2 separate regions of the Homo sapiens genome follow, and region 2 is linked to region 1. The links come from fine-mapping of genetic effects on gene expression. A gene starts in region 1. The other region holds a variant in brackets. All regions are shown on one strand. Distances are between the middles of the regions. Region 1 holds the start of COL9A2 (collagen type IX alpha 2 chain). Region 2 has its middle 28 kb from the start of MFSD2A.

Evidence for each region. PIP is the estimated chance that this variant, and not a neighbour inherited with it, causes the effect. A credible set is the group of variants that fine-mapping cannot tell apart.
Region 2: its variant is the best candidate, but not a certain one, in a credible set for the expression of COL9A2 in whole blood (GTEx, PIP 0.60).

What each region holds. Positions count from the first base shown.
Region 1 is chr1:40,315,349-40,319,734 of GRCh38, forward strand. COL9A2 (collagen type IX alpha 2 chain) reads right to left here and starts at 1,938. Exons shown (of 32, transcript NM_001852.4): 1 at 1,775-1,938; 2 at 242-316. The coding sequence starts at 1,849. RefSeq lists enhancers at 1-12, 796-1,432, 1,433-2,069 and silencers at 183-242, 253-352, 1,113-1,622.
Region 2 is chr1:39,980,846-39,985,231 of GRCh38, forward strand. No RefSeq gene overlaps it. Among named protein-coding and RNA genes, the nearest start is that of MFSD2A, 28 kb to the left of the region's middle. RefSeq lists an enhancer at 1-381. The variant AC/A (reference allele first, on the strand shown) is at 2,033.

The DNA.
Region 1 (4,386 bases):
CGGCGGACTGAACAGCAGCTCCTTGTCTGTCGGCGGCTATAACGGGCTCCGCATGTCAGGGCTGGTTTGAGGTTTTTGCAGAACAAACGGCGTCCTTGTGGTGCGGGCCGGCGCCGCCTATTGGCGACGAGGGGCACTACATCTCCGGGCACCCCGAAGTCCCCACCCCCACCACAGCGCTCACAAAGTTCTCCTTTGTCTGCCGCCTCCCTCCCGCCCTGGTCTCAGGTTAGAGACTTACGTCGATGCCGTCGGATCCAGGCACTCCCGGCGGTCCCGGGGGACCCGGGGGGCCCCGCTCTCCCGGTGGACCTCTCTGAAAAACACACACGGGGTGGGGCAGTCCTCAGACAGTGCAGGAAGCTGGGCGTCCCCGGGGCTGCAAGCGACCCTGGGAGCGGGGTCCTAGGGGCGCAGCTCTTCCGCGAACTCCCACGTATTGAGAATCTTCTGTATAGCAGGCACTGTGTGCCATTACATGCATTCATTATCTTACAGAATACTCAGAACCGGGAGGCGGGCGCTATTACGGGCCCCAGTTTGCAGTCGAAGAAACTGGCTCAGAACGTGAAGGGTCCATGGTCACTGAGAGTGGGCGGCGGCGCCAGGAGTCCGCCCTGGATCTGCCCGACTCCTTCCACTGTGCCAGTTTGCCCTTGCGCGGTCGCGGTGGGGAATAGATGGAGACGTGGACAGCTCAAATAAATCACAGATGGAATGTAAGGTTGTGCCTAGCAGGCTGCCGGCCCTCAGTGAGCGGTGGCTCGGGTTGTTGTTCTTACGTGAACGACAGGCAGAGACAGCGCCTCCTCCTCTCCCCATGGTGCGGGAAAACCCGACGGGAAAGTGGGGGAGGCGCAGAGAAAGGAGGTGTAGGGAGGTGAAGCGGGTACTATCTTCCCACTCGGAGCGCCCCTTCGGCAGCACAGCTGCCCGGTCCTCCCTCTGCTAAGCCCTGACTGCTGCAGGGGAGCAGGAGGAGCCGGCACCTCCCAGAAAGCAGACCCTCTCTCTGGATCCCGTTTGCCTGCAATTCAATGCCCCTGGGTGGGTGTGAGGTTTCAGGGAGGTCACAAGTCATATCAAGATGAGGCGAGCTCACAGCTGGAGAGTCTCCATCCTGCTGCCCATCTCTGAACAGATCAGAGATCTTAAAAGGCGGCCCTTTTAAGAGGCCAGCTCGGACCCAGGCAGGGGTCCCGGTGCCCACGACCTCCCCAGGCCGCGAAGTGCCAGGCTGGCGCCCCGCAGGCGAGCTCGAAACCACACCCAGCACCCGACCGGGCCCAGTCTCTGCCCTACCCGCGCGCCCGCAGCCCCCGGCGGCCCTCGGAAGGGAGACGTGGGTAGGCGGGCAGGGCCGAGAGGCCGCCTCGGGGCGACAGCGGCGTCTGGTTGGAGCCGGCGCCCCCTGGGAGGCGGCGGGGGCGGAGGCTGCGCAGCGGGTGAATGAGCACCATTGTATGCCCCGCCACCTGGGCTCCCCGGGCTGCCAGGACCGGGCGCCAGCTCCTGCCCCACGCTGCCTGTCCCGGGCCGGGCCGCGCGTCTGGGGACGGGTCCCGTTTGACTCTCCGGCTCAGCCACCTCCATTCACGGTGCCGCGATGGGCACCATGTATGCACCCACCGAGGGGACCTGCCCGCGGCGCTGTCCTCAGGTGGCCTCTCGGGCTAGGGGTGTCAGTAGGCGCGGGACACAGGCAGAGCTCCTCCATCCCGGACTCCAGACCCCGCACCCTGGACCCTGGCAGCGGAGGGGCTGCGAAACTTACAATCTGCGCCAGAGCGAGCACTACCACCTGGAGGAGAACAAGGAGGCTGCGGGGGGAGGCCGTAGCGGCGGCCATGGCTGGCGGCGAGACCAAGGGGGACGGGTGCGTGTCCGCGCACGCACCGACGGCAGAGTCTCCCGGCGCTCCTCCAGCGCTGGCTGTTCGCGGGCAGGGTGGGCTGGGGCTCCTGAATATGCGGGGGGCGGGGCGGGGGCCGGCGTGAGCTGTCACCTGAGAGGACCGGCGGGGTTGCCGGGAGGGAGGCCGGCGCCAGGCATCCAGCTCCGCCCCGCTCGGTCCAGCCTCCTGCGCCCACCCTCTGTCCTCGAGGGGCGACCGGGGTGCGGGTCGGAGATGATGGTCCAGTTTCTTTGTGAGAAGGCATAAGGCCGTCTGAGGTTCCCCTCGGGACCTTCAGGCCCCAGCACCTTCCCCCTGACGCACAGCCTGTGCCCCATCACTTACCCTACGTCCTCTCCAGGGCCCAGGCCGAGAGCACCTCGGGCTCTGCAGATCTTGCTGCAGGCTCTCCCCAGCTCCCGCCCACCTTGCTCCCCTCTCCTCTGGCTCCTTCCTCTCCAAGCACAAACAAACAGGCCTTTTCCATATTAATATGCCACAGTCCTTCCTGGATCAGCCGTCTCATGAATACTCCATCGGCCTCTTCCAGCTCTTTAGTGGAGCTGTGTGCACCTCCCCCACCCCCGAACTTCCTCACCTCGCTTTCACCTCCCTACTCTGTCCCAACAAGCAAATCTGTCTCCTGGAGGTCTGCAGTGAAGCCCAACCCTTCTTCGGTCCTCCAGGCAGGAAGCTGTTGGCATCTTCACCTGCCCTTGAAGTCTTCCCCATCCAAGCTCCTGCCATCCAGCTCCCCTTTTTCTATTGCCTTTAATTCTCTGCAGCTGCCTTAAGCACTGGTGTGTTTAGGATTGGGCCTTCTCACTCCATGTTCATAGAAACAACTACCACTTTATTCACCAGAGTTTCCGAACCCCGCTGTCCAGCATAGCCCGACTCCAGAGAGCCTTCCCTTCCCTCCCACTCACTTAGGCAATATTGGTAAAATGCTTTGGAATCTGACTTTTTCACAATTATAGATATGACCACAGGCACCCCAAACTCTATGAAGTCTCATTTTCCTCATCTGTAAAATGGGGATACTAATAGTCCATATATATATATATATATATTTTTTTTTTAAGACAGAGTCTTAAAAGGCTCTGGAGTGCAGTGGCACGATGTCAGCTAACTGCAACCTCGCCTCGCGGGTTCAAATGATTCCCCTGCCTCAGCCTCTCGAGTAGCTGGAATTACAGGCATGAGCCACAATGCCTGGCTAATTTTTATATTTTTAGTAGAGATGGGGTTTCGCCATGTTGGCCAGACTGCTCTTGAACTCCTGACTTCAGGTGATCTGCCTGCCTCAGCCTCCCAAAGTGTTGGGATTACAGGCATGAGCCACCGTGCCCAGCAAATTGTCCTTATCTTAAAGGGTTTTTGTGGAAATTGAATGAGATGACTCATGCGAGGCATTTAACCTCGAACCAGCACATAGTAGGTGCTTGATACATTTTAGCTTTCCTTATGATTTATGGATGACTGTTTTACTAGGTTGGCATCCAATGTGGGGAAGCTGGCCACAGGCAGATCAGCTAAAATGATGAACCTAGTTGAAGCTAGAAAAGTCCAACTCCATTGGGCAGGTTAGCAAAGGGCTCTGGATTTTGAAAGGTTGTCCTGGAGCTGAGTTTGGGAGAAAGAGCTTGAGAGAATGTAATTGCTCTGCCTAACAGAGTGAAGAAGAATTTGAAGTTTGTTGGAAGATGAGAGCAAGAGGAGGAGGATGTAAGAGAGGGATGGTGGGCATTGCTTGGGGTGGGTGGGGTAAACCTATAAAGGATTTTTAGAACTGGGATGTCCAAATTCAATTTTAAGTTGTTTGTTTCACATCACTTATCTCTCCATCTTTTGTGGGCTAACCACAAGAAAGGCCTTGTGTGAGTAAGTTTTCTTTTTGTGTGTGGAAATTATGGAAAGAGGATGAGTTTCACAGTCTGGACAGCACACATTGATGTATTAATTACCTGTTGCACCATAACAAATCACCCTAACATTCAGCAGCTTAAAATGACAATTTCTTTGGATTAGGAATTTGAGAGTGACTCTGCTGGTTCGGTCTGGCCTGGGGTCTGTTATAAGGTCATAGTCAGATGGTGGCTGGGCCTGATGTCACCTAGAAGGCTTCTTCACTCACATGTCTGATGTCAGTACTGGGAAGCCTTCAACCGCTGGGGCCGGAACAGCTGGAGTTGCTTGGACAGTTCTCTCCTTTATCTCTTTGTGGGCTTTCCATGAAGTTTCTCCAACATGGCAGCTTCAAGGTAGCTGAACATCCTCTATAGCAGCTCAGAGGGAGTAGGAGAGCACCAGACTGAAGAGAATTGCCACTCAGGACCCGTCCTTGGAAGTCATGCAGTGGCACCTTCACCACATTCTTACTGTTGAGGCAATTGCAAAGGTCTGCCCATGATCAAGGGGAGGGAACAGAGACCCCACCTCAAGGATGAATGTTAATGTCACATTTTTTAATTTTTTTTTTGAGATGGAGT
Region 2 (4,386 bases), 330 kb before region 1:
GGGGCCTGGGTGGCGTAGGAGGAAGCTGGGATGTCCTAGGGCTACTGAGGGTCAGAGAAATAGGAAAGGGCAGGACTGTTTGCCCTTACTGTGTTTCATAAGAGATGGGGAATGAGTCCTAAAGTCTCTCTTTCTCCTGTCTGCCACTACAGTCACCGCAGTCACTCTCCCAGTACCTTCCCCTTCAGTGACTCCCATCTGGCCCAGGTGGCCATCCGTGTGGCCTCAAAGGATGTCAGTACCAGAGAAGGCCCAAGAACTACCCAGCCTAGACTCCAGGCTCAGAGAGGACAAGGAAGTTGCACAAGGTCACACAGCCAGCCACAGGCAGAAGGAGAGAATCTGTCTCACTCCTAGCTCAGAGTTATTTTTGTTTTCCAACCAATTTTTTTTTTTTTTTGAGACAGAGTCTCACTCTGTTGCCCAGGCTGGAGTGCAATGGTACGATCTCGGCTCACTGCAACCTCCGCCTCCTGGGTTCAAGCAATTCTCCTGCCTCAGCCTCCCAAGTAGCTGGGATGTGCGCCATCACGCCCGGCTAATTTTTGTATTTTTCGTAGAGACGGGGTTTCGTCATTGTTGGTCAGACTGGTTTTGAACTCCTGACCTCAGGTGATCTGCCTGTCTCGGCCTCCCAAAGTGCTGGGATTATAGGTGTGAGGCACCGCGCCTGGCCATTTTTTCCCACCAAATTTATCAGTTCCTTCTTTTCTTTCTTTCTTTATTTCCTTTCTCTCGTTCTTTCTCCCTTTCTCCCTTTCTTCTTCCTTTCTTCCTTTTTCTTTTCTTTCTCTCTTTTTTTTTTTCAAGGTCTCACTCTGTCCCCTAAGCTGGAGTACAGTAGTGTGACCATGGCTCACTGCAACCTCGAAATCCTGTGCTCAACAAATCCTCCTGCCTCAGCATCCTGAGTAGCTGGGACTAGAGGCGTGCCACCTTGCCCAGCTAATTATTTTATTTTTTGTAGAGACAGGGTCTCCCTATGTTGTCCAAGTTGGTCTTAACTGCTGAGCTCAAGTGACCCTCCCTCCTTGGCCTCCCAAAGTACTGAGATTACAGATGTGAACCACCTCCTGGCCTGTCCGTTTCTTAAGAACCAAGACTTTTGTCCTGTGTCCTTCCCTCCCTTTTCACTGCCATCAGGGCTCAGACTCCAGAGCTAGTCCTCCAGCAATCTATGGCTTTCAGCAGATGGGTTTGGCCATTTCTGTTAACACAAAGGGACAACTCATAGTGTGGGAGGGGCTGTTCTACTCCTTGCTGTTCCTTAAAGGAGTAGCAGAGGCAGAGGACGAGACCTAGGCTGTCTAATCCAACCCCACCTGATGCGTGGATGCCTGTGGCTGCCTTCTGCTTGCTCATGCCTTTGGCAGCCAGCTCATTTTGGCTCAAGGCAGCCTGTTTCATTTGTGGAGAAGGGCATAAAAAAAGGTTTCCTTCATCTTGAAAGCTATCTCCTTGTGGCTTGTCCCCACAGATTCTAGATCCTCTCTTTGGCATCTGCACAATACAACCCTTCTCTTTGTCCCATGGAAGACCTGCATAAATTTGAAGACAGATCTTGTCCCTAGAAATGAGATCAAGGCCTGTCATTCTTCTAGTTATACTTGTTTTAGTAGTCTATAAAGACCAAGCATTTATTTTGCTTTTGTAATTAAAAATAAACAAAAAACTCCTTACTTTTCAATGTTTTATTGAGATATAATTTACATTCAGGAGGCTGGGCGCGGTGGCTCACGTCTGTAATCCCAGCACTTTGGGGAGGCCAAGGCGGCTGGATCACCTGAGGTCAGGAGTTCGAGACCAGCCTGGCTAACATGGTAAAACCCCGTCTCTACTAAAAATACAAAAATTAGCCGGGTATGGTGGTGCATGCCTGTAATCCCAGCAACTCGGGAGGCTGAGGCAGGAGAATTGTTTGAACCTGGGAGGCGGAGGTTGCAGTGAGCGGAGATCGCACCACTGTACTCCAGCCTGACAACAGAGTGAGACTCCGTCTCAAAAAAAAAAAAAAAAAAAGAAATCTTTACTT[AC/A]CCCAATATCAAAAAAATTATCTTATGTTTTTATTTAGAAGTTGTTTTATTGTTGTTTTATACTTTTTTTATTTAGGTCTATGATCCACTCAAATTAATTTTTGTGTATAGTGTGAGTTAAGGGTCAGAGTTTATTTTTCTCTGTACTTATCCAATTATTCCAGCACCTTTTATTAAAAGGACGTCCCTCCCCTACTTGATTACAGTGGCATAAATCAAAAGAACCTATATGTGTAGGTCCATTTTTGGACTCTATTTTTTTTTTTTTTTTTTTTTTGAGACAGAGTCTTGCTCTGTCGCCTAAGCTGTAGTGCAATGGTGCGATCTCGGCTCAATGCAACCTCCATCTCCCGGGTTCAAGCAATTCTCCTGCCTCAGCCTCCCCAGTAGCCGGGATTACAGGCACACGCCACCACACCCGGCTAATTTTTGTATTTTTAGTAGAGGCGGAGTTTCACCATATTGGTCAGGCTGGTCTCAAACTCCTGACTTCAGGTGATCCACCTGCCTCGGCGTCCCAAAGTGCTGGGATTACAGGCATGAGCCACCGTGGCTGGCCCTGGACTCTTTATCCTGTTCAAGTGATCTACTCAGCTATTCTTACTCCAAGAGTCCCCTGTCTTAATTACTATAGATTTATATAGTAAATGTTGAAATTTGGTAGTGTAAGTCTTTCAACTTCAAGGTTTTGTTTTGTTTTGTTTTTGAGATGGAGTTTCACTCTCTCCCAGGCTGAAGTGCAATGGCGCGATCTTGGCTTATTGCAACCTCCACCTCCCAAGTTCAAGCGATTCTCCTGCCTCAGCCTCCCAAGTAGTTGGGACTACAGATGCCCGCCATCATGCCCAGCTAATTTTTTTGTACTTTAAGTAGATAGGGGGTTTCAGCATATTGGCTAGGTTGGTCTTGAACTCCTGACCTCAGGTGATCTGCCTGCCTTGGCCTCCCAAAGTGCTGGGATTACAGGTATGAGTCACCATGCCTGGCCAAACTTCAAGGTTTTTGGATTGTCCATATGTATTTTGGAATCAGCTTGTCAATGTATGCGTGTGCACACACACACACACACACATACACACACAGAATGTGCTGGGAGTTTGATGGAATTACACTGAATCTATGAACTAATTGGAAAAAACTGGCATCTTAACAATATTGAGTCTTCTAATTTATGAACATGAAATATCTGTCCATTTATTTAGGTCGTGTTTAATTTATGTCAAGAATGTCTTATAGAAACAGGCATGGTGGTGCATGCCCGTAGTCCCAGCTACTTGGGAGGCTGAGGCAGGAAGATCACCTGAGCCAGGGAGTTTGAGACCAGCCTGGCCAAAATAGTGAGACACTGTCTCTTAAAAAAGAGAGAGGGCCGGACGCGGTGGCTCACACCTGTAATCCCAGCACTTTGGGAGGCCAAGGCGGGTGGATCACAAGGTCAGGAGTTCGAGACCAGCCTGGCCAAGAAGGTGAAACCCCATATCTACTAAAAATACAAAAAATTAGCCGGGTGCAGTGGCAGGCGCCTGTAATCCCAGCTACTCGGGAGGCTGAGGCAGGAGAATCGCTTGAACTCGGAGGGCGGAGGTTGCAGTGAGCTGAGATCGCGCCACTGCACTCCAGCCTGAAAACAGAATGAGACTCTGTCTCAAAAAAAAAAAAAAAAGAGAGAGAGAGAATGTTTCAGGTTGAGGTCTTTTTTTTTTTCTTTGAACATTTATTATGATTCTTTTTACATTTTTTGTAGAGGTGGGGTCTTGCTATGTTGCCCAGGCTGGTCTCCAACTCCTGGGCTCAAGCAATTCTCCCACCTCAGACTCCCAAAGTGCTGGGATTATAGGCATGAGCCACCACTCCTGGCCACAGGTTAAAATCTCAAACATCTTTCAATAGATTTATTCCTAAGTATTTGATATTTTTGATACTGATGTAAATGATATTTTTTGTAAATTTCATTTTCTAATTTTTTTGTTGCTATTATAAAGAAATACATTTGTATGTTGATCTCATATCCAGTAGTCTTGCTAAATTCACATATTAATTATATGAAACCTCTACATTTTTAATTTTGAAAACATTTGCATTGATCTTAAAGTTCAAGCTAGTATTTTGATTATTTTAAAACTTCCTAGGCCGATGGGCGCAGTGGCTGATGACTGTAATTCCAGCACTTTGGGAGGCCAAGGCAAGAGGACTGCTTGAACTCGGGAGTCTGAGACCAGCTTGGGCAACATGGTGAAACTCTGTCTCCACAAAAATACAAAAATTAGCCAGGCATGGTGGTGCATTCCTATGGTCCCAGCTACTCGGGAGGCTGATGCGGGAGGATTGCTTGAGCTCATGATTGCACCACTGC